Linked DNA regions of Homo sapiens: all the other regions are linked to region 2. Evidence: fine-mapped expression QTL. A gene starts in region 2. Each other region holds a variant in brackets. All regions are shown on one strand. Distances are between the middles of the regions.

Region 1 (8,000 bases), 140 kb before region 2:
CCAAATCTCATGTCAAATTGTAATCCAGTATTGGAGTAGGGGCCTGGTGGGAGGTGATTGAATCATGGAGGGCAGACTCACCGCTTGCTGTTCTTGTGATAGTGAATAAATTCTCACGAGATCTGGTTGTTATAAAGAGCATAGAACTTCCTCTCTCTCTGTCTCTCTCTCTCTCTCTCTCTCTCTCTCTCTCTCTCTCTCTCTGTCTCTGTCTCTGTCTCTGTCTCTCATGCTGGCCATGTAAGACATGCCTGCTTCCTCTTCACCTTCCACTATGATTGTAAGTTTCCTGAGGCCTCCCCAGAAGTAGAAGCCTATGTAGCCCACATAACTCAGAGCTGATTAAACCTCTTTTCTCTGTAAATTACCCAGTCTCAGGTAGTTCTTTATAGTAATGTGAGAACAGACTAATACACATGACTAAAACATTTTAAAATATTTCATCTCCAAAATGTTTCCAAAAAGGCCTTGCTAATTAAGGAACTGACCTTTGGATCATGGGGAACCTCATTCATTCAAAGTTAACTGAGATGCTCCCTTGCACGTGGAGTTGGTTTATCAATATAGATACATAGATGATTTATAAATAGATCTAAATAACTTCATACTTGAGGGCCTAGAACAAAGCTCTAACTTTAAAGAAATCAAATGTATTCTGCCCTTCTCTCTATTCTCTTTCTACTTGGATTTCTTGGGAATTCACATTTTTGTGGCCTGATAAGGTAAATCCAGCAGTGGGCCTAATGAAAACCAAGAAGTGACCATAAATTAAATTCACAGCAGATTTTTCTCCTTTTTGCCCCCTTTGTGTGTTATTTTCATAGGAATCTGTGTCTTCAGGAGAAATAAGAGCAAAAAGTTTAGCGCCATTCTGAGTATACTATCTTAACACCATGGAAATTATGAATAATTATTAGTAATAATTCTAGGAAACAGATTATCATAACAAAAAAGCATGCCAAATTGCCTTGTACTTTATTAGTAACATGGGAACATAAACTGAGAATGTGCTAAGGTGATATTTTGCTACAAATAGTCGAAGAAATATTTATTTAATATGATATGGGATGGTATTTTAAAATATTAACTTATCTGTCTTTTCCTCTTGTGTTTTTTTTTGTTTTTTTTTTTTTGTATCTTTTCTTCAGCCCAAACCATAAGGTCCATCTCACCTTCACTGCAACAAAGAAGGGTTGTTAAAGCTGGACACAGGTAAAGAAAAATTAAATTCTTGGATATTATGTTTCAAAAGCTTACTTTAAGAAAATCTAGGTTTCTAAGAACTCTAGACAAAAAGTTTAAGCCATAAATAATAGATTTGGAATGACTCAGAGTCAGTCACATTTTATACTCTGTTACTTGTAATAGGTTCCAAATTTCATATATGTACATCAGGACTAGATTTGATGACATGTGATAGAAAACTTAAAATGTGGCTTAAAGCCGCAAAGTTATATTCTTTCACATAAAAAAACATTCAGAGGGTAATTCCTATTGTCCGCTCCACTTTCACCCTCAAGCTCACCTCATCATCCCAGATGCCTTTGGAATGTCTGGGACTGTGTCCACATGCCGGGGGCGGGGGAAGGGGCAGAGCAAAAGAGACAGCGCCCAGTGAGCCAGCACCTTCAAGAAGCCTTCCTGGAAGTCATGTTCAAGACCCAGAATTTGGTCTTATGGCCCTGCCTAGTTTAAAGGAAATCTAAAAAATATGGATTTTATTCTAAATGGCACTGTGCCTAGGTAGAAATTGGGGCTCATTACTATAAAGGAAGGTTAAAATGGAAACTATGTAAACACCTATTGATCTCTACCACCACTAGCTTTTCTCCCACCAGAGAACATAATTTTCTCTGGGTTGTGGGTTAAGAGCCTTTAGAGGAATTGTTTTGAGAGGGTGAGACAGTAGAGCCTGAAGATAAGGGGAACCAATCTGAAAGGACCAGGCGGACAAAGGCGAGGTGGTATTCATAGACCACCTAGAGTGAGTCTCAGGGAATGATCTATGAAGAAAGTCAGTGCCCTGCCACTACCCAGGTTCCATTCAAGTGAGCACCTTATCTTACTGTGCAGAAGGCCTTTGTCAATCATTCTGACCGCTACTTTCCGGAAAGGGACCCCCAAAAGCACAGTGGCCTGTTACTGCACCAGAAGTATTATAATATGTTCTGCTATGCTCTGAGACTTGGCATGGCCTGCATAGGCAATTCCCCTTACAGTGGCTCTGGACATTCAGAAGACCACTGAAACAGAAATTATGACACCAACCATCAAGATGCATCCTGATTTAAAAAAAAAAAAAAGCACTAGCACACTTCACACCAGCACTGGACTAGCTCAAGATTGCTCAGAACCAAAACTGGTGAACAATATCCTCTTTATAAGATGTAATCCTGCCAGCATTGGTTCCTAAAATATTTTATTCTGAGGTAATTACTTGTTTCAGACCATTTAAGAAAACCTACAGATAACTAAACATAAACCTTGGTGTAATATCCCACCCACTAGAGTGATTAAAATGAAAAAGAATAGCAATACCAATTTTTGGTGAAGGAATGCAGCGCCTGGAACATAGGTAGGTTGATGCAAAAGTAATCGTGGTTTTTGGCTGGGCGCAGTGGCTTATGTCTGTAATCTCAGCACTTTGGGAGGCCGTGGCAGGCAGATCACCTGAGGTCAGGAGCTCGAGACCAGCCTGGCCAACATGGCGAAACCCTGTCTCTACTAAAAATGCAAAAATTAGCCACGCCTGATGGTGGGCGCCTGTAATCCCAGCCACTTGGGAAGCTGAGACAGGAGAATCGTTTGAACCCGAGAGGCAGAGGTTGCAGTAAGCTGAGACCGCGCCATTGCACTCCAGCCTGGGTGACAAGAGCAAAATTCAGTCTCAAAAAAAAAAAAAAAGGAATTGCAGTTTTTGCATTGGAAGTAATGACTAAAACCACAATTACTTTTGCACCAACCTAGTACATTGCAAATGGAAGCGTAAAATGGTGCAACCACTTTGGAAACAATTTGGCTATTTCTTATATAAAGTTAAACAGACATAGAAATTCCACTCCTAGATATTTACCAAAAGATGTGAAAATCTGTATCTATAAAAAGGCTTACACCTAAATATTTATGCAGTTTTATTCATAATATCCATCAAAGGTGAATGGCTAAATAAATTTATATGGTGGACTACTGGCCACCAATAGAAGGGAACAAACCACAATACACAACATAATGTAGATGAAATCACAGACAGTGAAAGAAGCTGGACACAGAAGAGTACACATTATTCAATAACACCTTTATTCTAGAACAGGCAAAGCTAATCTACAGTGATAGAAATCAAAACAGTGATTACCTAAGAAGAGGAGGGGAGGAGACTGCAATGGGGCTGAGGGAACTTTCTGGAGAGGTGGAAAGGTTCTGGGGAGGCGGAAAGGTGGAAAGGTTGTACGTGTAGATTGGTTTTCTCTCCGGCCAAACTCAGCAGCTGGAGTCACCCCAAGAATGGTGGCAGGGGAACTCCTTCAAGGGACCGTCCCAAACCTTCCTGAGATTGGGCCTGCTTGGGTTTCAGAGAAGGAAGCACTAAACTCCAGAGTGACCAATCTGAAGCATTTATTAGGGGAACTTACAAGTTACACAGGAGGAGGCTGCAGCAGGTCCGCCTGAGCGACAGTGAGGGGGAGATGTTCTTCCTGAGTATGTCCGCAATGAGGGGTCAGGTTATGGAGTTTATGTGAGAGCTTAAAGAATTTTTCCGAAGGTGGACGCCTTCTACGTGTATAGTAACATAATCAATCTCTGTGTTTCCAGCAACAACCTAAACAGCTTTATCAGTAGTGGGGAATGTTCAACGCCCTAGCTTGGATTCAAGGATGCAGGAAAAACATGTAGCTGGCCAGGTCACAGAGTAGTCAAGGCATTCTGTTTTCCTTGGTCAGGACACAGGAAGAAAGCAGAGACGATATTGGGGGACCCAACAATTGGAGTAGTGGTTGATGATTACGGATGTGTACTTGAGTCAAAAGTCATCAAATTGTAACCTAAAAATGAATTTTATTTTTACAGTCATATTACTAAAAAAAAAGAACTTCCGTTCATCAAAAGACACAACAAAA[A/T]GCAAACCACAGAGTGAGAGAAGCTACTTGCAATACATATATCCAACAAAGGGCTCATATCCAGAATTCATAATGAATTCTACACCCAATAAGAAAACAACAGACTGCCCAGTAGAATAATGAATGAAGGATTTGAAGATACAATTCACAAAAGAGGATGTCCAAATGGCTAACATATATTAGAATGTGCTCAATATTATTAATATCCAGCACCACTAGACACACACTGTAATGACTAAAATTAAAAAGACTGTCAGTACCAAGTATTGCCAGGAGTGTAAATTGCCCCAACCACTTAGGAACACAGTTTAGCATCATCCAGTAAAGTTGAAAATATGCAAACACTAAAACCTTGTAATCACACTGCTAGTTATATACTCAACAATAATGCATATTTACATGTACCAGGAGATATCTACAACAACATTTATTGCACTACCATTTGTGATAGCAAAAAATTTAAATATTTAGACAAATAACAATCTATAGTAGACTCGATAAATAAATTGGGCTATATGAATATTTCATACAACAATGAAAATGAATGCCTCATAGCTATAAACAATAAAATAGATGAATCTCACAAATACAAGACTGAGCAGAAGAGATCAGACTTTATCATAAAGAATTTAAAAACAAATTTAAAAAACTAAATTATACTGTTAGCTTACTTAGGTAGTAAAATTAAAAAAAGAACCAGGAAATGATTGCCATAAACATCCAAATAGTGGTCAATTCAGGGGGTTGAGACTGGGAAGTGTAAAGATGCTAGCAAAGTTCTATTTCTTGAACAGGTGGTATTTATACAGATTTTACTTCATAATAATTTCTTTAGCTGTACAATTATATCTTATTCATTTGTGTATGAGTGTTATATTTCACAACACAATTTTTTAAAGAGGCATGGGAGGCGATGACATAATAACATAATAGATATCAGTTCAATGAACAAAACAAAGTGGGAATCAAAGAGAGGATGCTATTTATAAGAGGAAATATTTGAGCATTTTTATTATTGAAGATTAAAAATGCAAGAGAGAATTAATGTTATGAAATCTCAGAGAAGACAGAGGATGGAATCAAGTATGTATAGGCAAGTGGTCTTGCCTTAAAAAAGACAACCATTCTGTCTCCAGATTAGGAAGGAGAAGGAAATAATAATACAAAGAATATTTGAAACAGAGAAAGTATATGGAAGGTCATATTGGGTGATCTCTGGCAGTTAGAATGTTATTGATGGAGATTTTGAAGACTTATATTTGTCATCATAGGTTTTGTTTTGTTTTGTTTGAAGTTTCAATGTACATTCATACATAGACAAACCAATGTCTTTCCAGAATCCAGAAGAGGAATTTAACTTTCTCTAGTAACACAATTTGTATTCATTTCACATAACTCAATATTTGCTGTGCCTCCAATAAGTAAGGTCCTACCCTCGAAAACTTCCAATCTAGTAATGGGAAGAACAAAGTACATTTAAAATGATAACATAAAGTACAGCATATACTAAGAAAAGGAAAGGAAGGAGGAAGAGAGTAAAAGGGAATAATCAATGTCAATTGAGTTCCTACTACATGTCAGACACCGTGCTAGAGGCATTTGTACATTATTTAGTGTAATGACAAGTCTAAGAGGTAAGAAAGGGGTATTATTCTGATTGATTGTACATATGTCAAAACTGAGGCTTGCTACAAGAATTCAGACCAAGGAACAATTATTGATCCCAAAATAGGGATCAAGCATTTTATACAGGAAACAGCTCTGCAAATATAGAAAAGATGTCAACAGACAGTTTGTAGAAGAATGCACAAGAAAAAAATAACATTTCAAGAAGAAGGACAAATTTGATTATATGCAGAGGAAAGAAAAATAAGCAATATTTATACAGTTTGGCTGAGGCAAAAAGGCTACATAGAGAATGAGTGGAAAATAAACCCAGAAAATAATGATGTGGGGTCAAATTGAGAAGGCATTTGAAGATACCAGATTCAAGAGTTTACAACTAATTCAGTAGGAAACGGGAGTGATACTACTACTTGAGGAAGATTTATCTAGTCCAGGTCTGCCATCCCTAATTCACAATTCCAAAATCCAAAAAGTTCTAAAAAACCAAAAATATTAAGGTTTTTTTCTGAAACCTTAAAAAGCCAGCCTAATCTGAATTCATTTAGCATCCAAGTTTAACCTGAATCAAAGTGAGAACATTTATACTCTTTATTTATCTTAATGTGAATATTCATGTGTTTCACTGAAGAAATAACTGTGTTTGATTACAGAATGTTGCCCCAGCCCCATTGGGTAGATTTTAAAATATATGGTACAACCATATTACCTTTCTAAAAATGCAAAAATTAAAAAGAAAAATCTTCATTCTAAAAACAGATTTAATTCCAACAGTTTTAGATGAGGGATTATCAACTGTAACAATCTATAGAATGGGATAAGTGGAAGAACAGAGGTGAGAAGGCCAGTTTGGTGACCTCCAATAGTCCTGGCCACTTACATACAGTGGTGGCCATGAGAATGGAAAAGATGGGTGAATATAAGAATCACTACAAACTATACTTGGAAGCTAACTGGATGTAAGAGAGTAAGGAAGACGTCAAAGGAAAATCCAAGATTAATCCTGGAAGCCTAATAGTAATTTCAACAGTCAACAATAACAAAAATTAGATCATTAATGGGTTTACTTTAATCATAATGGATTTAAGATGTTGGCAGGACATGTAGGTTGTAATGTGAGGCAGAGAGTTAGAAATGAGTGTTTAGAGGTCAGGTGAGAGGTCAGGACCTGAGATGTAAATTTGAGACTCAACTACATAGAGGGAAATAATGACAGTTATGAAAATGGATGGAATTCTCAAAGAATCAAGAGATTCATGCATGGAATTTTGGTAAATCATTAGCACTTTACAGCATAGCTCTCTTGGTTGCATGAAAGTTCTATTGCTAAAGATTAGCAGAGGCTAACCATGCCTTAGTGATGAAGGAGCAGCATTATCAGAAGCACCAGAAATGCACCAGGTGAAGGATCACACAGATAAAAGTGCAATTCCTGAATTCCTTCCTAATAACTACTTCAGGGTGTCTTGCCAACAGTGAACTGAGCAAACACAAGTTTACAGCTTTGGAGCGATATCCCAAAGCAGATGAGCTCACTTTTTAAAAAAATCAATATATGTCCTTCAGTCAACATTTGTTATGCTCCTAGGCTAGCAGAAATGTAGCTTTTTGTGGAATCTCTTATCATGGTTAGTTGTGACTCAAGAGGAGTCACTCAAGCCAAAAGAAACTACAGTTTGTCAAGTTGTTAACTTATTTTGTAAAAGGTATCTGTCTTACCAATGCTACTACAAATTCATATCAGTATTTAATGTTTTATAGCAATGAAAACATGGTAGGGAAGAGATGGCAATGAGTTAAGCAGATATGAACTGAAAGCCACATTCCTCACCTCTAAAAGCAAAGCAACTGACAGGATATTTCTTGAGAGGTGTGATAGTTAATTTTATGTGGCAACTTGAATGGGCCTGGTTCTTGGTCAAACATTATTCTGGTTGTTTCTGTGAGGGTATTTTGGATGAGATTTACATTTAAATTGGTGGACTCTGAGTAAAACAGATCCACCTCTATAATGTGATCAGGCCTCTTCCAATCAGTGGAAAGCCCAAATCAAATAAAAGGCTGACCCCACCCTCCAACTCCACCCCAAAGTAAAAGGGAATTCTGCCAGCAGACTATCTTCAGACATCAACTGCAACATTAGCTTTTCCCTGGATATCCATCTTCAGAGTCTTCAAACTTGAACTGCAACAGGGCTCTTTCTGAGTCTGCAGCCTATCAGCTCACTCTGTAGATTTTGAACTTGCCAGCCTCCACAAATGC
Region 2 (8,000 bases):
GGAAGTTGCAGTGAGCCAAGACTGTGCCACTACACGCCAGCCTGGGTGACAAAGCGAGACCCTGTCTCAAAAAGAAAAAAAGAATACTTTTCAAATTCTCTGTGAGGCAAGCAGCCAACTTCCTAATGAGTTTGATCAGCAAATGGGGTTTCAAAACACATTCCATCCGCTGCTTCTGCTCCAACTTCTCAAAATTGTGAGGGGAGGTGTGAGCCTCCTACTCACCCTCCCTGCACTACTAGCCCCTCTGCTCCCTATCCGGCCATGAAAGTGGACATGACCTGAATTCATCAGCCAATTTGTTCTGGGTCCTTTTGTCTCCTCATTAAGCGTACAGACGAAAATCTTACTGCTCTAAAGAAATGTGCTTACATATCCAAGTTCACTCCTTGCACGTTTCCTTTTCCTTAAAGCCAATCATTTTGCTTTGAAGTAAGTAGAACTGGTGGAAAGTCCCCTCTTCTGCATCTGTCCCATCATTTCATCTATGTGAGTTCTGCACCTGTCAGACACAAGATGAGTCTCTACACTGCCTTCTCTCCCACCGACAGGGGTCCAGGTAGTGCTCAATCAATTCTATGCTCCCCACACCTCCTCCAGTATCTCCAATCCCCCTCCGCCCAGCCTGCTCCACTGCAACCTGTTTTTCTACCCATTGGAAAAGTGGTTTCCAAATAGTGGACTGTGATCCACTAACACGTTATGAGTTTTTAAGAACACAGACTAGAAACAGAAATTCAATAGAAATAGAAACTAGTTTCACATACACATATACTTGCTATGCCCTGGGTCTCAGTGTAAAAATGCATTTTGTACTGTTGTAGTCTGAAAATGTTTGAAACACTGCTTTAGACAAGCGTTTGTCCACCTACTCAAACTCCACCCATGATATTGGTCCCGCTGTCTGGGACTCCCTTCCTCCAGTGCTGGCTCAAGCTCTGAACAGCCTTCCACGTGTCTTCTTCGTTGGCTGTTTTCAAAAGCTTTGGCCTTTTACACCAGTTCAGAAGCTCCTTCTTATATATCCATTGCCTTCTCCGTGAACAGACCAATGTTCTGAACAAAGAAACACCTTTTGCTATTCCTGCCTTATCCTGCCTGATCAGGTCTGGGATCTGCTTGCAGCACATCCAACTGTCTCACCAGGAATAACAAGCCTCAGAGCAGTAGGCCTCCATTTCTTTGTGTGCAACCTTTCATCCTCAACAAGAAAAAATACCACTAAAGTCACTCTGGAAATACCTAGACTTTCTTACAAAATTAGCCTTACTTTCCTAATGTAATGTATTCTCTGGTGTAATCCATCCAGCGCCTGATACCAATGCCAGGTGAATACAGCTCATTCCTAATGTTCAGTTAAAGTCTGTTTCCCATCCTTGAGAACAGATGGTGACTCCACCTCCATACTGCTATCTTCTTCTTCTCTCAAGGCAAATGGAAGAAGAAAAAGCACAACAGGGTGACTGCACTAGTTTGGTGGTATCCTTTCCTCTCTCAAGGACGAGGGCACAAGTTGTCCAGCACAACTCCACCCCCAGTCTGGCCCTCCTTTGTCCAAATGCCCATAATTCTCACCCAGACAATTAATTCATTATCTTCCTTAACAGAAAAGCTAGCTTTTCATATCTTAGTGTAGACTGTTCAGTTTACTCTTCTCAGCCAAACTGAGTATCCCAGTTTGAGATATTGAAGCCCAAACAAATCCTTAATCTGTAGGATGTGGGACTAATTTGGAAAGAAGGGTGGGGAGAGACACTGAGGTCTAAAGAGTTTCTTACAAACTAAACTGCCCATTTTCCTCTAATACATGCAAGACCAGCTTTGAGAGAGGAACATGAACGCTGGGCCTCCTTTAGAGCACCAAAGAGGAGAGTAAACAGGTCTGAAAACTGTTAAGACAGCTGTGCTTGACTCTGAGGAGCCAGAAACACTCTCAAAGAGAAAGAGGGAGAAGGGCCCATCAAACCTCAGGTACATTCCCAAACCTGCCTAGAAGCTGTGCCACTTCCCTTTTGAAACCCAGCCCCTTTCCCATTTCTCAATTGGGAATCTAGGGATCCTTTACTTCCTACTAGTTATCTGGTTACAGGGAGGACTCTCCAACACCTACAAAGCCACTACTTCTTTCTCCCCAGTCTTTTGCAGGGAAGGCTCTTAATCAGTCTAACACTCAGATTTCTGATAGCTCCCTGCTCATAAGACTTCCCTTGGCAATCAGATGAATTTACCCAGTGGAGATTTCAGAAAATCAAGGAAAAGACAGGCCAACTCTTGCATCTGTACTCCAGGACCTATTCAGAAGACTCCAGTGAAGACCTAGCTTCCCTGGGGTTTGCATTAGTCTCAGCACCTTGAGCATGCCATTCCTAGTTCACCTCCAAGTATAAAGCATTAGTAGCAAAGACCCATTATTCTTTCCACCAGGGTAAAGAAGGCTTAGAGTGAAATGAATATAAATGGAAATCTAATACTGTAAATAAATAATGACTGATTGGGCAGCTGGGTCAGAGGCATCCAGCCTAAACAGATAAAATTCATCTCAAGGATGAGGACAGTAAAGATTCAAACTCCAGAGGGAGGTAATGGGACAAAAGGAGTTGCAGGCGTAGAAAAAAAAAGAAGCACCCTCAAAATATTCTCTGGGTTATCAGATGGCACAGGAGGGGCGTGGCAAATAAACTAAAATCCATGGTTCTTCACCCATTCTTTCATATTTTCTAACACGGCGGGAATACACTTTTCTAATTTCGTTTCGCCCAATTTAAGGAAAAGATAAGCAAGGATAAAAATTCCTCATATATAGCACAATTAAAAGGGAGCTGGGATTCTCTAACTTATTACCTTAATCGGCTACACAAAGATGAAGCTACATTTCAATCGACACCATGCGCTGGCACGGGAGTAACTCACTTAAAACACCACAATCCAAGGTCAATTTTTCTCAACTCCATTTATGACTGCGTAAAGATTTTATTAAATCTTTTTTCCTATTTCACACATCAATTCCTAGGGTCCACACAAACTCTTCCATCTTCTCCAAACTGGTATTTGGATTAAACATTATCCAAGATCAGTCTTTAAAGTAAATTTCATAATTTCATATAAAAGTGTGCACCACATTAACACTCAAATGTGTGTACAATTAAAAATATACAGACCAGCAACAGCGACTCTTAAATGAATTTAGACTCAAAGTGTTTTCACAGAGGTTTTTCTGCCGTCTTGGAGGGGTAGGAAACTGCTGGCATTACGAATCCCATTTCATGGCTGGGTAAACCGAGGCACTTAGGGGTTACAGAGGTAAAGATGGAAATAGAAACCAATTTCTCCCTCCGACTCTACGCCTGGTCCCTTCCCACTAGACTTTTCAGCACTCAGTGGCTAAAAATGGGACCCACTTGAGAACTGCAAGGGTAAATAAGAGCTACTTGTTTCAGAAGGTGGCGGCGGGGGAGGGGGACTTACCCACTTGATGCGCCCGATTGTGTGTGGGCTCTAACAAGAAAGCTCTCCCTGGATGCCCAAAGGTTTGCACCCACCCGCTTTAAGCTCAGACCCGAGAGGCACCGCCAGGCAGACAGGGCAGCCGGAATCGTGCAGCCCGAGAAACGCGAGAGGAATGCGGGGCGCCCGGGCGGCGCGGGGGCCGCGGGCCCCGGGACACCATTTGCTCCCGGAGCGACGCCGTGGCCCGCCGGGCGGGGACGATGCTGAGCCTTCCGCACACACCTGCCGGAGCCCGCCCGGGAGCCCCGGGCCGCCTCCCGCGCGCCGGACGCCCACCCAGCCTCCAGGCGCAGGAGCTCTCGGCCGCGCTAGGCCAGGGGCGGGAAGCCGCGGCACCCCTCTCCGCGGGCTGCGCTTGGCGGCTGGCGCGGGGGAGCCGCGGGGCGAGGCAAGCCCGCCTTCCTCCCCAACCCCCCCTCCAAACGGCGTCACCTGTGCCGGGTCCCGGGGCGAGTCGCGCGCGGGCGGCGGCTGCGCCGAGCCGGGAGAGGGCGGCGGGTGTCTACAGGAGTCTGCTCATCCGGGCCGGCCCGAGGGCTGGCGCTGGCCAGTGCCGCCCGGTGAGATGCTCACGGGAGCCAGGGAAGCCGCGGGTTCCGGGCCGCTTGGAGGTGCAGTCGCGGAGGCTCCAGCTACCGCGGCGGCCGTCGCGCCCGCCCGGACTGCGGGCTCGGGTTACCGCAGAGCTGCTCCTTAAAGGGGCCGCGGCCGCTCGGGCTCCGGCTCCCGCTCCGGGCGGCTCCGACCCTGGCCAAAGTGGGCGGGGCCCCGAGGCGGGCCGCCGAGCAGACCTTCTTGCCCTGGAACTTGGGTCCCGGAAAGAGCCCAAAAACCCTAACACCCGAAGTCGCAGCGGAGAGATCCTGGAAGCTCACACCTTGCCAAGGGCAGAGGGTGCAATTCCCGGGTTTTCCAAAGCAAGTCACAAAACTTGCCAGCGGGGGAACTGTGTGAGCCCGCCCCCGCAGCGGTCAGTACCTGGGCTAGCCACGTAACAAAAAATCTTCTTAAATTATGAATTTACATTCTGCCTTAAATGCTCAAATACTGGGGACTTCATGGTTAGATCATCAGAAAAGAGATGAAAAGGCAACTGCTGGTTTTTCTTGCCACGTCTGACACGGCCACACTCGAGTCCCGCCAGTTCTTCTTTGGGGCTGCAGGTGCATACCAAACTGGTAGGGGGCGCGTGTAGAAGAAGCGTGTTCTCTCCAGCACCACCTCCAGAATTCCTGAAAAACACCCTCATGGGTGCACCAGCACTACACCTACACCCGGAACCCCTCTGTTGTCGGGGTGTGGAAGTTGGATTTGAATATTTGGTGCTGGCTGAGAATTCCAAGTTGCCTAGTAGATAAAGTTTGACATTAAATAGATGTTCTGACCTGTTATATACAGCCCCAAAAGCCTCCAAGTGATCTGCATCAACCAGAGATAATTGTCTGAAACAAAACAAAATAACAAAGAGGTATACTCATGCATTATAATTCGCAGAGAGCAATCACAAGGCCTTTTCTTGAAAAGAGGTAAGTTCTAAATAAATAATTTGTAAACACTATCATTGATAACAGGATATTTATTTCTAAGAAATGTCAATAGAGCTAACATATTTGATCTACTATATACATGCGCAGAAAGACACACATATCTGCCGCAGATTTAGACCAGAAAATATATACACAAAAGCTCATATAAGCTGTCCATGTTTATTTTCAAGAGAGGGCAATAGAATTTAAATCAGAACCTGGAATTCTGTCAGTTTATTAGAGTTGTGTGCCTTTAGCTAACTGAACCTCACTGAGGCTCAATTTCTTCATCTTTAAAATGGTAATAATAATTCATAGTGACTCTGAAGACCTGGACTGATGTGGAAAAGACAAAATCTATACCACAGAACAGGGAGGGACAGAAACCTGCCCTGCAGTCAAGCAGAGAGAAAGATCTTTCAGGCCCCCAAATGCGTGTTCCCCTTTTTCTCCCCAAGACTCTCAGGATGTACCAGGGCTCCAGTGCTCTTTGAACCACACGGTGTCCCATCATAGTCCCTTCACAATATGTGCAGTACCTGACAACTTTGGTTTGCGCAATAGCTACCTTGTGCACTCACATAGCTATTTCATAACTCTCTGTGGGCAGGATGGTTATATGTGAACATCTGTGAAGTCAGCCCAGAAAATACCAATTTCACAGTGTCCTCTCAAGAGTCTGTATCAACACTACCTCCTACAGAAACTCTCCCATGCTAGTCTCTGGTGGCTGATAGTAGCTCTGTTCTTTCCTGATAAATGCACCATCATTATCTTTGATATGCATAATTCTCTAACACCAACAGCAGTAACCAAAGCCAGGTAAACCCACAGAAATCCACTATACTCTATGTCCCACTATATTCCTTCATATTAGGCCTCTACAAATGCCTCATGAAAACTGCAAGATTGTTTTTGAGATTGTACAGAACATATAAGTTAATATATCAAGGACAAGGCCTGAGCTATGAGAGGAATTCAGTAAATAGTAGTTGAATGTTGCAAGTTTTAAGCTAATTAAAACTCAGTGACCTTAGGAGGTAGAAGAATACATCAACTGTATTTTTTCCTGAAAAATTCAGGGTAGCTTAATCTCTTTAAAAATATCCAGTTCATGGCTGGGTGCAGTGGCTCACGCCTGTAATCCCAGCACTTTGGGAGGCTGAGGCGGGCAGATCACCTGAGGTTGAGAGTTCGAGACCAGCCTGACCAACATGGAGAAACCCTGTCTCTACTAAAAATATAAAAAATTAGCCAGGCATGGTGGTGCTTGCCTATAATCTCAGCTACTCGAGAGGCTGAGGTAGGAAAATCGCTTGAACCTGGGAGGCAGAGGTTGTGTGAGCCGAGCTCACACCATAGCACTCCAGCCTGGGCAATAAGAGCGAAACTCTGTCTCAAAAACAAACATATATATTATATATATATATATATAATGTGTATATATATATATCCAGTTCATTAAATCTGTATTATTAATTGTTTCACCAATATTCCCTTTCCAAGGATACTTTCTCAGAATTCTGTATTTACCATATGAAGTTTTTCTGCATTTTAAATGGGATGTATAAAGACCGAATTGCACTTTTTATATTGTTATTCACTGAAACAGTTCAAGCAAACAGATCAGAGAAATGAAAGTATTTATCCACACTTGAAATGGGCAACAAATACAAAAACTCTTTTTTTTTTTTCTTTGAGACAGAGTCTTGCTCTGTTGCCCAGGCTGGAGTGCAGTGGTGCCATCTCGGATCACTGCAACCTCCGCCTTCCAGTTTCAGATCTCGTGCTTCAGCCTCCCGAATACCTGGGATCACAGGCATGCACCACCATGCTTGGCTAATTTTTGTATTTCTAATAGAGACGGGGTTTCACCATGTTGGCTAGGCCGGTCCCGAACTGCTGACCTCAAGTGATCCACCCACCTCGACTTCCCAAAGTGCTGGGATTACAGGCTACCATGTCCAGCCAAAAACTGTTTTAAATGAAGTAAGTTTTCCTGATGAATTTATTTTCCAAAATTCTTAATCTTCTGAATAGAACCAATTGTTTGAAAAACTAAGACCAAAAGCTGTTTTTTTTCTAAAAATTATAATTAAAGCAAAAATATTTTGAGAAGTTGCCTTAATTCTCCACTCTGCTCTGTTAGTGAAGATACAAACTAAATGACGCCAAACATTTTGATCAGAAAGGCTGAATTACTAAAAAATGAATAACCCCAAGCACTACTTTTTCCTGTGTTGGTAGTTTTAGTGTATTAAGAGTGTTTGTAGTTTTATAAGTGTTTAAAAATACTTTCACCAGGCACACTGGCTTATGTCTGTAATCCCAAGTGCTTTGGGAGACTGAGGCAGGAGGATTGCTTGAGACCAGGAGTTGGAGGCTGCAGTGAGCTGATATTGCACCACTGCACTCCAGCCTGGGTAACAGAGTGAGACCCTGTCTCTAAACAAACAAACAAACAAACCAAAAGGTTTTTTTAAAAGTACTTTCATTTGTTTTCAGATGAAACTATTTCAAGATATTACCAGTGGTTATTTCTGGGTGGGTGAGACTTTTTTTTTTAAGAGATAGGGTCTGCTATGCTGCCCATGCTGGGGTACAGGAGTACAGTGGCCAGTCACAGATACCATATCACATGACAGCCTCTAACTCCCAGGCATCTATGGAGGCAGCCCATAAAATACAGAAACAATCCTCCCCATTTAGCCTCTTAAATAGCTGAGACTACAGGCACACTCAGTTTTCTGGATGGATGAGATTCTGGCCATCTTTTTATGTTCTTTTTGCGCATTTTATTATATGTGATATATTTTCTACAATGTATGTGTATTGTTTTGTTTGCATTTTTATTTTTAGTGAAAGTAACACACATAAGTGAAAAATCAAATAATTCTTAAAGGCTTATAACAAAAAACATCAATGAGTGCCATCAGCCCCCGGCCCTGCTTCTCCCCACCTGTCTTC
Region 3 (8,000 bases), 22 kb before region 2:
AACTTTTGCTGAAAACCAGTAACTTACAAAGTAGAAAAGAAGCTGAAAGGTGAAAAAGCTGATACAGGTAACACTGATGAGCAGTTTTGTGTTGATCTCCATATTTCTTCAACCTGTTAAGATAAATGACAGCTATAAATTGTTGTCTCATAATAAACCTAGAGTAATTTTTTTATTTTAAGAAATATGTCTTGTAATTTTAGTAATTTTTAAAATTTAGAACAAATGTTAAGAATATAAACTATAAGAATTTTTGACCTTTTGTATATTTCTTCACCTTTACCATCTATTTGTCATGTATCTTATGTCTGTTTTATCTTAAAGATCTCAATATTAGAGGTGTCATTTATAATTTTAACATCATGATATTCAAAATTATCTAAGTCTTAATATTAACAGAGAATTTCAAGTACTATAAGTAAAAACTATTCTTCTAATAATATTTCAATTAAATTTATGACAAATCGATTTCTTTATCCCTCAATTTCTCATCTATGATATGAAAGAGTTGGTTACATAATTTCTAAGAAACAATCAAGCCAAAAACCATAGAACTAACACTGCCTGTAATAACAAAACAAAAAATAATTCCATAATTAAAAAACTAATTTTGGAGCAGGACAAACAACATTTAAAACAAAATTAAAATCTTAAGAAGAACACAGTCTTAGCAAAGAGCCATTGCACTGTTGAGGCAAGACAATAGGGTCTGGAGGCAGGGAACCTAAGGCCGATTCATACTGACTTCCTAGAACTAAATCAAACAGAAAAGCCCAACTTTACACACCTAACTAACAAAATAACTGGAGGTTACTCGCTTTGAAAACCCCTCCCTCACTTTTCTGAGTGGCAAATGGAAAACTGAAAGTACCTCTGATTGGTTGCTTTCCGCAACCAATCAGACGTTTACATAGGAGTATAACTTTATAACTTCATTTCAGCCTCTGATTGGTTGCTTTCCCCAACCAATCTGACTGACTGCCAGCCAAGTCTTCCTTTGCACAGAAGTGTAACTTCCCCTCCCCTCCGCCACGCCCCCAACCCCGCCTCCAGATGGAGTCTTGCTGTGTCCCCCAGGCTAGAGTGCAGTGGTGCGATAGATCTCAGCTCACTGCAACCTCCGCCTCCCGGATTCAAGCAATTCTGCTGCCTCATCATCGCGAGCGGCTGGGATTACAGGCACGCACCACCACACTCGGTTAATTTTTGTATTTTTAGTAGAGACGGGGTTTCACCATGTTGGCCAGACTGGTCTTGAACTCCTGACCTCGTGATCTGCCCACCTCAGCCTCCTAAAGTGCTGGGATTACAGGCGTGAGGCACCACAACCGGCCTAGATTGTGGGCCACTACTTCATTTGCATGGGGTGTACAACAAGTGGCCAATGGGAAACCTGTAGCAGGTATTTAAGCCCTAGAAAATTCTGTAACCGGGCTCTTGAGCCCCTATGGTAGGACCAACTCCCACCCTGTGGAGTGTACTTTCATTTTTAATAAATCGCTACTTTCATTGCTTCATTCCTTCCTTGCTTTGTGCATTTTGTCTAATTCTTTGTTCAAAATGCCAAGAACCTGAACACCCTCCACCGCTAACACCGTCACTGCACAAATGAGAATTTAACTTTTAAAACATGCTCTTCAATCACACACATTCTTGGAGCAAAAGGCCTGCAGGGCTTTGTATCCCTTATTAAAAAAAAAAAAAAAAAAAAAGATTTTTATAAAAGAGCTTCAGGTCTTAACAATCGAGTTAGCAGAAAGAATAGTACTATGCATATATGCACACTCAAAGTGTGTTTTCTATTTCATTGAGCTGAACTTTATTTGGCTCCTAAAAATCTTAGGAACATTCAGAGCAAAAAAAAAAAAAAAAAGGCACTAAGGCATTTGCTCATATCCAGCAAATACAGCATTTCTATGGCTCCATCTTTGATAAAGCTGATTCTCAAATGAAAAAGAAATAAATCAATACACATTTCCAGCTGCCTAATGCAAAGAAATAAAGTCACCTACTGAAATCAATTCACCAGAGAAAAGCCAAGTCATTGACTGCACTAGCAATAACCCCACTTCATTCCCTTCCAACCAGGATATCGTAATAAGAATCAATCTCCCACAGGGCCCCTTCCATCAGAATTCATATGTCTATAATGAATTCTTTCCTCATTCTTTGTGTGTGTGTGTGTGTGTGTGTGTGTGTGTGTGTGTGTGTACTTGGTAAAAATATTGATATTACAATTCTTCTCTATGAGACTCCATTAACTTTACTGCTCTTTTACTTCTTTTTAATTCAACATATGTTTATTGGGTATTAAAATTTTAATTTGTGGTCTTTTAGCCTAGGTTTAATATTAACCAAACAATACATAAAAGTTTTGTACATAAATTAAGCATTACCATAATTTGCTAAGTGGGATGTAAGGAGAATAATGCTTTTCTAAGATTAAAGCAAATAGGTATCTGGAGGCCAGATGGACACAAAATTGGAAAAAAAATATAATCAGTAATCAGAAGAGAATGGAGAATCTAATCTTAAATGTGAGGAGGTTTCCCCTGAAGACTTTCGTATGCTCTCTGCTGATCCTAGAGCAGAAGGTGGGCACGGGCTGCTCATTTAGTTTGTTAAAATTCAATGTATACAAAGCATTTATTTCATGAATGTTAAAAGGTGTCATAAAACATATCATACCTTATCCATTTTATGAATTGTTCATTTAACTACTGTATTTAAAAGCACTCAAACAATTCACCATTAAAAAATGTATCATCCCACCCTCGCCCAAAAATCGAGTTTTTAAGTCTTTGTTCTAATGGATGAATATTATATTTTGAACAGAATTATTATCAGGTAAGACTTTGGGATATATGTTTAGAGTCTCCCTTTGGAAAAATGTTTCATTTAAAACTAAATAAAGAGCTCCATATATTCAAGCTGTGACTTCCATTAAAAGCTCAACAGATAGAAGCCAATTAAATTGTTCTACTCTCAGCTTTGCCTCTTAGTGAACAGCTGCTTGCTTAATCAGTCATGCCAAATCAAGAACTAATCTAGAGATCTTTACAAATTTCCCCAGAAAACCAAGGCTTCTGGTAGGAAGCAGCTACCCCTGTTCATTCACTTTAATGCATGAATCAGGCAAGAAAAATGGTAAAAAGTGATAAAACCAAAGGATGCTCATTACTAACATATGTTAAGGGCCTGCAAGAGTTTGGTGATTATTAAGTATAGGAATATACAGTAAAACTGGAAAAGCACACCTACTTCATATACCTCTACAGGTAGCTAGTAGCTGGCAGAAAGCTGGGATACTATTTGGCCTAGCGAAGAGCAGCTGAAACAGATAAGGGAAATACTTCTGTAGCAATTTACAAGAGCGTCTAGACATGAACTCTACATTATAATTAGTCCATCTTGATTCACAGGAATTGTGGACATCAAAGAAACTTTTCCAGAGACCTGTTGAATGAAATAATGTTTATACTTTTCATT[A/C]AAGATGGTTTACATAAACTTTAATTGACACTGATTTCTTAGTAGGGAAAAACATGAAAAGGTCTGAAGTACAGTCATGCACTGCATAACGATGTTTCAGTCAATGACAGACCACATATACAATGGTGGTCTCATAAGATTATAATGGAGCTGAAAATTCCTATCACCTAGAGACGCTGTAGCCATCATAACACCGCAGCGCAACACATTACTCACGTGTTTGAGGTGATGCTGGTGTAAATAAACCTACTGCACTGACGGTCATATAAAAGTCTAGCACATACAATTATGTGCAGTACATAATAGTTGACAATGATAATAAATGACTATGTTACTGGCTTAAGCATTTACTACACTATACTTTTTATCATGATTTTACAGTGTATTCCTTCTATTTATTAAAAAAAACCACACACACAATTAACTGTAAAACAGCCTCAGGAAAGTCCTTCAGGAGGCAGTCCAGAAGGAGGCATTGTTCTCATAGGAGATGACAGCTCCATGTGTGTTATTATCCCTGAAGACCTTCCAGTGGGACAAGATGTGGAGGTGGACGACAATGATATTGATGGTTCTGACAGACCTAGGCTAATGTGTGTGTCTGAGTCTTCGTTTTTAACAAAAAAGTAATAAAATAATAATAACATAATTGTAAAAATAGAAGAAAGCTTATAAAATAAGGATATAAAGAAAATCTTTTTCTACAGCCATACAATGGGTTTGTTTTCAGATAAGTGTTATTAAAAAGAATCAAAGGCTGGGTGCAGTGGCTCACGCCTGTAATCCCAGCACTTTGGCAGGCCGAGGCTGGTGGATCACCTGAGGTCAAGTGTTCGAGACCAGCCTGGTCAACATGGTGAAACCCCATCTCTACTAAATATGCAAAAAATTAGCCAGGCATGGTGGCACATGCCTGTAGTCTCACCAACTCAGGAGGCTGAGGCAGGAGAATCACTTGAACCTGGGAGACGGAGGCTGGAGTGAGCCAAGATCACGCCACTGCACTCCAGCCTAGGTGACAAGAATGAAACTGTCTCAAAAAAAAAAAAAAAAAAAAAATCAAAGGTTTAAATAAAAAAGTTTATAAAATAAAAAAGAAACTAAGCTAAGGTTAATTTATTGAAAAAAGAAATTTTTAAAATCAATTTAGTGTTGCCTAAGTGTACAGTGTTTATAAAGCCTACAGTAATGTTCAGTAATGTCCTAGCCCTCCACTTTCACTCACCACTCACTCAGTGATTCACCTAGAGCAACTTCTAGTCCTGCAAGCTCCATTCACAGTAATTGCTCCACAGAGGTGGTGTAACATTTTTTATCTTTTTTTTTTTTTTTTTTTTTTTGACACAGGTTCTCACTCTGTCATCCAGGCTGGAGTGCAGTGGCACAATCATAGCTCACTATAACCTCAAACTTCTAGGCTCAAGTGATCCTCCCGCCTCAGCCTCCCACATAGCCACCACACCCAGCTCATTTTTTTTTTTTTTTTTTTTGTAGAGACTGGGTCTCACTATGTTGCCCAGGATGGTCTCAAAGTCCTGGCCTCAAGTGATCCTCCCACCTCAGCCTCCCAAACCACTGGGATTACAGGTATGAGCCACCATGCCTAGTCCAATTTTTAATCTTTTATACTACATTTTTTAACTGTACCTTTTCTATGTTTAGATACACAAATACTTGGCATTGTGTAGCATCTGTCTACACCATGTATTCAGTACAGTAAATACTATACAATGTAGAATTTAGATACACAAATACTTGGCATTGTGTAGCATCTGTCTACACCATGTATTCAGTACAGTAAATACTATACAATGTAGTATTTAGATACACAAATACTTGGCATTGTGTAGCATCTGCCTACACAATGTATTCAGTACAGTACTGTACTGTATTCAGTACAGTAAATGCTGTACAGGTTTGTAGCCTAGGAGCAACAGGTTATGTCATAAAGCCTAGGTGTGTGGTAGGCTATTCCATCTAGGTTTGTGTTAAGTGCACTCTATGATGTTCACACAATGATAAAATTGTGTTAAGGACACATTTCTTAGAATGTATCCCCATTGTTAAGCAATGCATGACTGTACATGTCTTAACTATCAGCTATGAGAGCACTTCCCTTCCAGCAGGAGGACTCCCAGAGATAGGGCCCTGGGAAACAGCACTGCCAGGGCTAATTCAGTCTTCACATCAAAAAACAGTCCATCCATCTGTCTCTGGTCCACCATGAGCCAGGCACTGTGCTGGAATACAAAATAGGGAGACATGCTTATAGCCAGTAGGGATACAAAGAAATTGATCCTCACCACACAAAGTGGTAAGTGTAGGGTGCTAAGAGAATGCTCCCTGCTTTCCAAGGAATAAATACCCAGGAGAGGTAACACATAATAGTGAGGAGGTATCCAAAAGTAAACCAAGAGGACATTTTCTCTTCTATTAAAATCCCAATAAGATGCTTTTAGGCTGGAGCCCAAAAGACTCAGTTCTCAGTCGGGCTCATGCCTGTAATTCCAGCACTTTAGGAGGCCCAGGTAGGAGGACTGCTTCAGGCCAGGAGTTCAAGACCAGCCTGGACAACATTAACAAGACCCCGTCTCTACAAAAAATAGAAAAATTAGCTGGGTGTAGTAGCACATTCCTGTAGTCCCCACTACTCAGGAGGCAGAGATGGGAGGATCACTTGAGCCCAGGAGATGGAGGCTACAGTGAGTTATGATTGTGTACCAGGGCACTCAGGCCTGGGTGACCGTGCAAGACGCTGTTTCAGAAAAAAAGAGAAGGAAGAAAGGGAGGGAGGGAGGGAAAGAGAAAAGAAGAGGAGGAGGAAAGAAGGACAGAGAGGAAGAAGGAAGAGGGGATGAGGGGAAGAAGGGGCAATTTTAAAGGAAATTGACTTTAGAAAAAACAGACTCAGTTCTAGTAGGTGAGGTTAGGATTACCAGCCCCTCCCCACCAAAACACGATCACTCACTCATTTCCCCCATTTGTGATTCCTTTGCAAATACAGGGATTCCTTAGAGAATATATCAAATACCAGTGCCACTTCCATGCACATACATAACCCCTCTCCTTCATTTTCTGATATAATCCCCCAGTGAGAACCACTGCTGGAGTGTTTTGCAGTAAAAATCCCTAAAAAGAAGGGGATGGGTCTGTGTGTTTGTCTTTAAGGGCAGCAAAGAAGGGGGAAGCTGGGAAGAATGCCCCAATTATGCTTAGCATTCCTTTTCCCATCCCTGGCAAGCTCCCTTTCCTATTTCCCACATTGACTCCAAATATTCACCGCTCTCAAATCTCTAGTTCTCCCTCTTAAAATAGATGAGGTTTCTTCCCATTTGACCAAGAAAATGAAGGCGATCAGGCATAAACACCTTTAACTTGGCAATGTTTACTACCTCCCCCCAACCCCCACTACCTGAACCTCTTCTCTGCATACTATAGGTTCTGCCTGGCTATGCGCCCTGCACCTCCAACACTGCTTATACTGTGTGCAACTAGATTTCACCACCCGCCATGTACCAGCCCTGAATGGTCAGCCACCCTCTGGATGGGCTCCATTTGTGCATCCAGAGGCCCCACAGGTTCTACTTCGCCCAAGTTGAACTTAACCCCAACCAGCCCTTCTCTGTGGTGCCATACCTCAATGAATGACATGGACATCCACAATACTGCCCCATCTTCCAACCTGGAACAGCTCAGTCATCCTGGATTCCTTCCTATACCTTACCTCCACAAATAACTGACCAACAAATCCTGGTAGATTGGAGAATACCAAGTGAAGGATACCTTGATCCCAGCAAAGTTCTGAAAGTTTCTCATGATAGCCTTATGAAAAATACCAAAAAAAGTGGCTAGATCAACAAAGTTAGTGAGCCCAAGAGCTAGCTGAAAACTAGAAGCAGCATGTAAATTAATGATCCAAAGTAGAATTGAGAAATATCTCTTGATATTTTATACAATTTTCTCTTTTTTGGTCCTGTTTTAGCAAATATTTTTTGTAAATATTTGTATGTTTACTTAAGCTGCATACAACACAGAGGTGGGAAAGACAGCTAATACATTAAGTTAACAGAATCAGGTTTTGAAATTATCTTGATTAGCTGAAATAATGAATCCAAATCATAAAGGCAAAATATAATAAAATTTTTAAAGGCAATACCAAAGTATAGGACTTGGCATAATAGCCATACACACAAGACCTTAGCATTGTAAGTGACACAAATCAATGAAAGACAACAGTATAACAACAATACTAAACACACACAAAAAAAAACAAATTTCAGGCTCATTTATACTCAGAAAGAGTGGAAGTGCATCTTTTGATCAAGCATCAGTCCCATATACTCCCAATTAATTACATACCAAAGTACCCTTAGAGTGGTGTAAAGATGGTAATCTTATCATGTCATAAAGAGCTAAGAGGCTGAGTAATGTTAGCTTGGGAACAAGATTTCTTAAAAAAAAATAAAAAAAAAAAACTTGAAAACTTGAGAGCAGGCCAGGCTCAGTGGGTC
Region 4 (8,000 bases), 46 kb before region 2:
AGAATGTGGGGGTCGAAAGGGAGCGTTACATTAAGCACATGATTTACAGCTGTGATGGTTTAGCATATGCTCTGCTACTTGAGATAATGGAGAGCAGGTTCTTTTAACTCAAGATACAATCGATCCTGGGAGAGCAAGGAGCAAGGAGCCAGCAAGTCTAGACACATTCCAGAGCCAGGAGCCTTGGATTCTATCCAAGCCACGAGCGGTTTTATGCCCTGGGCTTAGATTACCGTGCGTCAGGGTAGCCTTCCACCCTTTGGCACAGAGCTTGGTGTTCCAAAGGCCACAAGGGGTTTTAGACCCTGGACCCCGCACATGTTCCAAGACTCTCTTACATTATGTCAGACATGCAAGCCCTGCCTCAGCTTCTCTCCCAACACTCAGCATTTCCCAACAGATACCACCACTATATCCCAATGCTGACAGAATTTCCAGAAATATTTATTGGCAAACTTTTTAAAACTTCCTCTATTTGAGCAAATTATTATTATAATTAAGCAATTACATTTTGGGAGGCAGGGATAGTTAAAAGCAATTAAGTTTTGGGAGGCGGAGACAGTTAATGACAATACGCCTGTGGTATGGAGGGCAGGATTTGAATCCTAGCTCTGGTGGCAACTTGGGGCAAAGCTAATCTAAATTTCGGTTTCTCCTTTTGTAAAATGGGCACAATGCCATCTTTATAGCAAGACTGACATGAGAATAAAATGAGACGCATACTGAGGGCCATCAGGAAAAATACTGATGGCCATCAGTATGCGGCACTCAAAAGAGAAGGCACTCAAAAGAGGAAAAAGAACTAGGTACAGTGGCTCATGCATATAATCCCAACACTTTAGGAGGTTGAGGCAGGAGGATCGCTTGAGATCAGGAATTCTGGGCCAGCCTGGTCAACATAGTAAGACCCCACGTCTACAAAAAAAATTTTTTTTTTAATTAGCCAGGCATGGTGGCGTGTGCCTATAGTCCCAGCTACTCAGGAGGCTGAGGCAGGAGGATCACTTGAGCTCAGGAGTTAAGGCCATAGCAAGCTATGACTGCACCACTGTACTCCAGCGTGGGTGACAGAGTGAGACTTTGTCTCTAAAAAAACAACTGAACAAGGTAAATTTTCTTATTATAAAGACAAGGCCTAAAACGGCCTATTCCTTCCTGCCTAGGTGCAATCATTCACACCTAGTTACTGATGCAAGGGTGACCACACAGGTCTAAGGTTCAGGCCTGGATGATGGGGAGGAATGGATGATTAGACAGATCATTACAGTCAGGAAGGACTGGATGCACTACTAATGAACACTGCTATTTTACTATAAAAGATAACCTTACGTGAACAAATCACCCTCCAAAAGTAGTTGTTACTTTCTACTTGTTGCAGAAAAGCATCCAGGATGAAAAGGAAAATTAATACTTCTAAGGGTAAACTAAACTGTTTTATTGATCCTATGGTTTTTGTCAGCTTTTCATCTCACTTTGCACAACTATAATATATTTCATCCAACCTAAACTTAACTGTGTTCATGATGACTTTATGTTCATCATACCACAGTGTGGCATGGTTGAAATGGCCTCTGAAAATTACCTACTTTCTATTACCCATAGATTTTTAAATCCCACCCACAAAAGCTCTTCCAGTTTGCCCTCAGCTTAGGGTGGACTACCCCATAGTGAGAAGTGTAAGCAGCTCACTGCAACCTGGGACTGCTATTCAAAAGTTCCAAAACTATACTGCTCTCTCAGATTTCCACCTGCCTGTCCTACTTCTGATCCTCACAACCCAAAAAACTTAATTGAATCCAATCTCTTTTTCATATAAACCTTCTGATATTTACAGACAGTATATGTTTATTTTCTTTCCCAGTATCATTTCCACATTGCTCAGGTAAAGACTCTTCTAGCCAACCCTTTTCAGAGTTCCTGATCCCTGTTAACTGCAGTCTTCACAAAACAAAAATAAAACAAACAACAGAAACCAAGCAGCCTCTTGATGAAAAGAACCAGTTACACAATGGTTCTCTGAAGAGAATTTTGGCAGAATGAATCAATATCCTTAAAACATACATATACTAGGCCAGGCGCAGTGGCTCATGCCTGTAATCCCAGCACTCTGGGAGGCCGAGGCGGGTGGATCACCTGAGGTCAGGACTTTGAGACCAGCCTGCCAACATGTTGAAACCCCGTCTCTACTAAAAAATACAAAAATTAGCCGGGCATGGTGGCAGGTGCCGGTAATCCCAACTACTTGGGAGGCTGAGGCAGGGGAATCGCTTGAACCCGGGAAGTGGAGGTTGCAGTGAGCCAAGATCACGCCATTGCACTCCACCCTGGGGGACAAGAGCGAGACTTTGTCTGAAAAAAAAAAAAAAACACACACACACACACATACTATTTGCCCAAGAATTCCACTCAACAAAATTATTCTTTGAAAATAATTATTCATGTGCACAAATGAGAAGATATATGGATATTCACTCAAAGTTACCTATGACACTGAAACACATAACAATAGTCATTGGTTAAATGTTATTACATATCCATATGCCACCAGTAGAGATAATGATACCACCAGATAGTCTGAGAATAAAAACATCTTCAGAACTTTCAACAGACTCAGTTTACCTCCTTCGCTTTCTTAGGTATCATTTGAGGATATGCTGCAGCAAAATGAGTGAATAAACAAGAAAGTCAAAGACATGGGATTGAGGAAACAGTGACTTCAGCCCAAGATTGGAATGACAGGGAGCCCCAGGCCACTGGGCAGCAGCACAGACAGCAATCTGTTCAGACTGCAGCAGAACAGCAAACTCCTGGAGCAGGTATGTGGGAGCTGGGAAAAGACGGTTGCAGAGATGGAGTAGTATCCTTGAGGATATGAAGCTACTCAAATATGTAGTAAAGGCAAATGATGGGGGGAAAAAAGGAAGGCAATTAGAAACTCCAAAAAAATTACACAGAAAATGTAATCTGGGTCCTGCAATCAACTATTTTAATACAATCATAATAAATATTTTACTGATTTTCTATGTGTAGATCAACTGACTACAAAGAAAAACTATGATTACAGAATACAAAGTAGATATTTTTAATTCTCAGCAATACAAAAGTACAAGTGATAAAAACTGAGAAGCAAAGTAGGAGTTAGAGAAGTAGAAGAAAAAATTGGGGCACTAATATCTTCATTTTTAAAAGTATCAAGAGGTGGCGGGGGTTCCAAGATGGCCGAATAGGACCAGCTCCAGTCTACAGCTCCCAGTATGAGCGACACAGAAGACGGGTGACTTCTGCATTTCCAACTGAGGTACCGCATTCATCTCACTGGGGCTTGTCAGACACTGGGTGCAGCCCACAGAGTGTGAGCCGAAGCAGGGC[G/A]AGGCATCGCCTCACCTGGGAAGCACAAGGGGTCAGGAATTCCCTTTACTAGCCAAGGGAAGCTGTGGCAGATGGTACCTGGAAAATCGGGACACTCCCACCCTAATATTGCGCTTTTCCAACAGCCTTAACAAACAGCACACCAGGAGATTATATCCCGCGCCTGGCTCAGAGGGTCCCATGCCCACGGAGCCTCGCTCATTGCTAGCACAGCAGTCTGAGATCAAACTGCAAGGCGGCAGTGAGGCTGGGGGAGGGGCATCCGCCATTGCTAAGGCTTGAGTAGGTAAACAAAGCGGCCTGGAAGCTCGAACTGGGTGGAGCCCACCACAGCTCAAGGAGGCCTGCCTGCCTCTGTAGACTCCACCTCTGGGGGCAGGGCATAGCTGAACAAAAGGCAGCAGAAACTTCTGCAGAATTAAACATCCCTGTCTGACAGCTTTGAAGACAGTAGTGGTTCTCCCAGCACAGTTTGAGATCTGAGAACAGACAGACTACCTCCTCAAGTGGACCCCTGACCCCTGAGTAGCCTAACTGGTAGGCACCTCCCAGTAGGGGCCGACTGACACCTCATATGGCTGGGTGCCCCTCTGAGACAAAGCTTCCAGAGGAAGGATCAGGCAGCAACATTGGCCATTCTGCAATATTTGCTGTTCTGCAGCCTCCACTGGTGATACTCAGGCAAACAAGGTCTGGAGTGGACCTACAGCAAACTCCAACAGACCTGTAGCTGAAGGTCCTGTTAGAAGGAAAACTAACAAACAGAAAGGACATCCACACCAAAACCCCATCTGTATGTCACCATCATCAAAGACCAAAGGTAGATAAAACCATAAAGATGGGGAGAAACTAGAGCAGAAAAGCTGAAAATTCTAAAAATCAGAGCACCTATTCTCCTCCAAAGTAACGCAGCTCCTCGCCAGCAGCAGAACAAAGCTGGACAGAGAACAACTTTGACAAGTTGAGAGAAGAAGGCTTCAAACGATCAGTAATAACAAACTTCTCCGAGCTAAAGGAGGATGTTCGAACCCATCGCAAAAAAGCTAAAAACATGCAAAAAAGAGTAGACGAATGGCTAACTACAATAAACAGCATACAGAAGACCTCAGGTACCCAATGGAGCTGAAAACCATGGCACGAGAACTATATGACACATGCACAAGCTTCAGTAGCCGATTTGATCAAGTGGAAGAAAGGGTATCAGTGATTGTAGATCAAATGAATGAAATGAAGTGAGAAGAGTTTAGAGAAAAAAGAGTAAAAAGAAATGAACGAAGCCTCTGAGAAATATGAGACTATGTGAAGAGACCAAATCTACGTTTGACTGGTATACCTGAAAGTGATGGGGAGAATGGAACCAAGTTGGAAAACACTCTTCAGGGTATTATCCAGGAGAACTTCCCCAACCTAGCAAGGCAGGCCAACATTCAAATTCAGGAAATACAGAGAACACCACAAAGATACTCCTCGAGAAGAGCAACTCCAAGACACATAATTGTCAGATTCACCAAAGCTGAAATGAAGGAAAAAATGTTAAGGGCAGCCAGAGAGAAAGGTTGGGTTACCCACAAAGGGAAGCCCAACAGACTAACAGCGGATCTCTCGGCAGAAACTCTACAAGCCAGAACAGAGTGGGGGCCAATGTTCAACATTCTTAAAGTAAAGAACTTTCAATCCAGAATTTCATATCCAGCTAAACTAAGCTTCATAAGTGAAGGAGAAATAAAATCCTTTACAGACAAGCAAATGCTGAGACATTCTGTCACCACCACGCCTGCCTTACAAGAGCTCCTGAAGGAAGCACTAAACATGGAAAGGAACAACCAGTACTAACCACTGCAAAAACATGCCAAATTGTAAAGACCATCGATGCTATGAAGAAACTGTACTGATTAGCGGGCAAAATAACCAGCTAACATCATAATGGCAGGATCAAATTCACACATAACAATATTAACCTTAAATGCACATGTGCTAAATGAGCCAATTAAAAGACACAGACTGGCAAATTGGATAAAGAGTCAAGTCCCATCAGTGTGCTGTATTCAGGAAACCCATCTCACATGCAAAGACACACATACACTCAAAATAAAGAAATGGAGGAAGATCTACCGAGCAAATGGAAAGCAAAAAAAAGCAGGGGTTGCAATCCTAGTCTCTGATAAAATAGACTTTAAACCAATAAAGATCAAAAGAGACAAAGAAGGCCATTACATAATGGTAAAGGAATCAATTCAACAAGAAGAGCTAACTATCCTAAATATATATGCACCCAATACAGGAGCACCCAGATTCATAAAGCAAGTCCTTAGAGACCTACAAAGAGACTTAGACTCCCACACAATAATAATGGGAGACTTTTAACACCCCACTGTCAACATTAGACAGATCAACGAGACAGAAAGTTACCAGGATATCCAGGAATTGAACTCAGCTCTGCATCAAGCAGACCTAATAGACATCTACAGAACTCTCCACCCCAAATCAACAGAATATACATTCTTCTCAGCACCACATCGCACTATTCCAAAATTGACCACACAGTTGGAAGTAAAGCACTCCTCAGCAAATGTAAAAGAACAGAAATTATAACAAACTGTCTCTCAGACCACAGTGCAATCAAACTAGAACTCAGGATTAAGAATCTCACTCAAAACCACTCAACTACATGGAAACTGAACAACCTGCTCCTGAATGACTACTGGGTACATAACGAAATGAAGGCAGAAATAAAGATGTTCTTTGAAACCAATGAGAACACAGACACAACATACCAGAATCTCTGGGACACATTTAAAGCAGGGTGTAGAGGGAAATTTATTGCACTAAATGCCCACAAGAGAAAGCAGGAAAGATCTAAAATTGACACCCTAACATCACAATTAAAAGAACTAGAAAAGCAAGAGCAAACACTTCAAAAGCTAGCAGAAGGCAAGAAATAACTAAGATCAGAGCAGAACTGAAGGAGATAGAGACACAAAAACCCTTCAAAAAATCAATGAATCCAAGAGCTGGTTTCTTGAAAAGATCAACAAAATTGATAGACTGCTAGCAAGACTAATAAAGAAGAAAAGAGAGAAGAATCCAATAGATGCAATAAAAAATGATAAAGGGGATATCACTACTGATCCCACAGACATGCAAACTACCATCAGAGAATCCTATAAACACCTCTACGCAAATAAACTAGAAAATCTAGAAGAAATGGATAAATTCCTGGACACATACACCCTCCCAAGACTAAACCAGGAAGAAGTTGAATCCCTGAATAGACCAATAACAGGCTCTGAAATTGAGGCAATAATTAATAGCCTACCAATCAAAAAAAGTCCAGGAGCAGACGGATCCACAGCCGAATTCTACCAGAGGTACAAAGAGGAGCTGGTACCATTCCTTCTGAAACTATTCCAATCAACAGAAAAAGAGGGAATCCTCTCTAACTTATTTTATGAGGCCAGCATCATCCTGATACCAAAGCCTGGCAGAGACACAACAAAAAAAAGAGAATTTTAGACCAATATCCTTCATGAACATTGATGCAAAAATCCTCAATAAAATACTGGCAAACCAAATCCAGCAGCACATCAAGAAGCTTATCCACCATGATCAAGTTGGCTTCATCAGTGGGATACAAGGCTGGTTCAACATACGTAAACCAATAAACATAATCCATCATATAAACAGAACCAAAGACGAAAACCACATGATTATCTCAATAGATGCAGAAAAGGCCTTCGACAAAATTCAACAGCCTTCATGCGAAAAACTCTCAATAAACTAGGTATTGATGGGATGTATCTCAAAATAATAAAAACTGTGACAAACCCACAGCCAATGTCATACCGAATGGGCAAAAACTGGAAGCATTCCCTTTGAAAACTGGCACAAGACAGGGATGCCCTCTCTCACCACTCCTATTCAACATAGTATTGGAAGTTCTGGCCAGGGCAATCAGGCAGGAGAAAGAAATAAAGCGTATTCAATTAGGAAAAGAAGAAGTCAAACTGTCCCTGTTTGCAGATAACATGACTGTATATTTAGAAAACCCCATCGTCTCAGCCCAAAATCTCCTTAAGCTGATAAGCAACTTCAGCAAAGTCTCAGGATACAAAATCAATGTGCAAAAATCGCAAGCATTCCTATACACCAATAACAGACAAACAGAGAACCAAATCATGAGTGAACTCACATTCACTATTGCTACAAAGATAATAAAATACCTAGGAATCCAACTTACAAGGGATGTGAAGGACCTCTTCAAGGAGAACTACAAACCACTGCTCAAGGAAATAAAAGAGGACACAAACAAATGGAAGAGCATTCCATGCTCATGTGTAGGAAGAATCAATATCGTGAAAATGGCCATGCTGCCCAAGGTAATTTATAGATTCAATGCCATCCCCATCAAGCTACCAATGACTTTCTTCACAGAATTGGAAAAAACTACTTTAAAGTTCATATGGAATGAAAAAAGAGCCCGCATTGCCAAGACAATCCTAAGCCAAAAGAACAATGCTGGAGGCATCATGCTACCTGACTTCAAACTATACTACAAGGCTACAGTAACCAAAACAGCATGGTACTGGTACCAAAACAGAGATGTTGACCAATGGAACAGAGCAGGGGCCTCA

Alleles and levels. Alleles are on the strand shown, and positions count from the first base shown. SD is a standard deviation of normalised expression in the study named. Not every link is listed here.
With allele G in place of A in region 4, the expression in subcutaneous fat of the gene that starts at base 4,202 in region 2 is higher (moderate effect, 0.68 SD a copy in GTEx).

What was found.
Region 1: its variant is fine-mapped to the expression of TLCD4 in lung (TOPMed, PIP above 0.99).
Region 3: its variant is fine-mapped to the expression of TLCD4 in whole blood (INTERVAL, PIP above 0.99).
Region 4: its variant is fine-mapped to the expression of TLCD4 in subcutaneous fat (GTEx, PIP 0.96).

The regions. Positions count from the first base shown.
Region 1 is chr1:95,257,197-95,265,196 of GRCh38, reverse strand. No RefSeq gene overlaps it. Among named protein-coding and RNA genes, the nearest start is that of RWDD3, 27 kb to the right of the region's middle. The variant A/T (reference allele first, on the strand shown) is at 4,116.
Region 2 is chr1:95,113,557-95,121,556 of GRCh38, reverse strand. TLCD4 (TLC domain containing 4) reads right to left here and starts at 4,202. Exons shown (of 7, transcript NM_152487.3): 1 at 3,940-4,202. It overlaps TLCD4-RWDD3 (TLCD4-RWDD3 readthrough), which reads right to left and starts at 3,634. Exons shown (of 8, transcript NM_001199691.1): 1 at 3,466-3,634. RefSeq lists silencers at 3,712-3,761, 3,842-4,121, 4,049-4,195 and cis regulatory regions at 5,450-5,977, 7,589-7,818.
Region 3 is chr1:95,136,004-95,144,003 of GRCh38, reverse strand. It overlaps TLCD4 (TLC domain containing 4), which reads right to left. Exons shown (of 7, transcript NM_152487.3): 2 at 1-113. The coding sequence starts at 102. TLCD4-RWDD3 (TLCD4-RWDD3 readthrough) reads right to left here. Exons shown (of 8, transcript NM_001199691.1): 2 at 1-113. The coding sequence starts at 102. Among named protein-coding and RNA genes, the nearest start is that of TLCD4-RWDD3, 22 kb to the right of the region's middle. RefSeq lists a silencer at 7,000-7,192 and an enhancer at 7,747-8,000. The variant A/C (reference allele first, on the strand shown) is at 3,490.
Region 4 is chr1:95,159,835-95,167,834 of GRCh38, reverse strand. All of the region lies in intron 5 of TLCD4 (TLC domain containing 4), which reads right to left. All of the region lies in intron 5 of TLCD4-RWDD3 (TLCD4-RWDD3 readthrough), which reads right to left. RWDD3-DT (RWDD3 divergent transcript) reads left to right here. Exons shown (of 4, transcript NR_125949.1): 4 at 2,637-4,616. Among named protein-coding and RNA genes, the nearest start is that of TLCD4-RWDD3, 46 kb to the right of the region's middle. The variant G/A (reference allele first, on the strand shown) is at 3,370.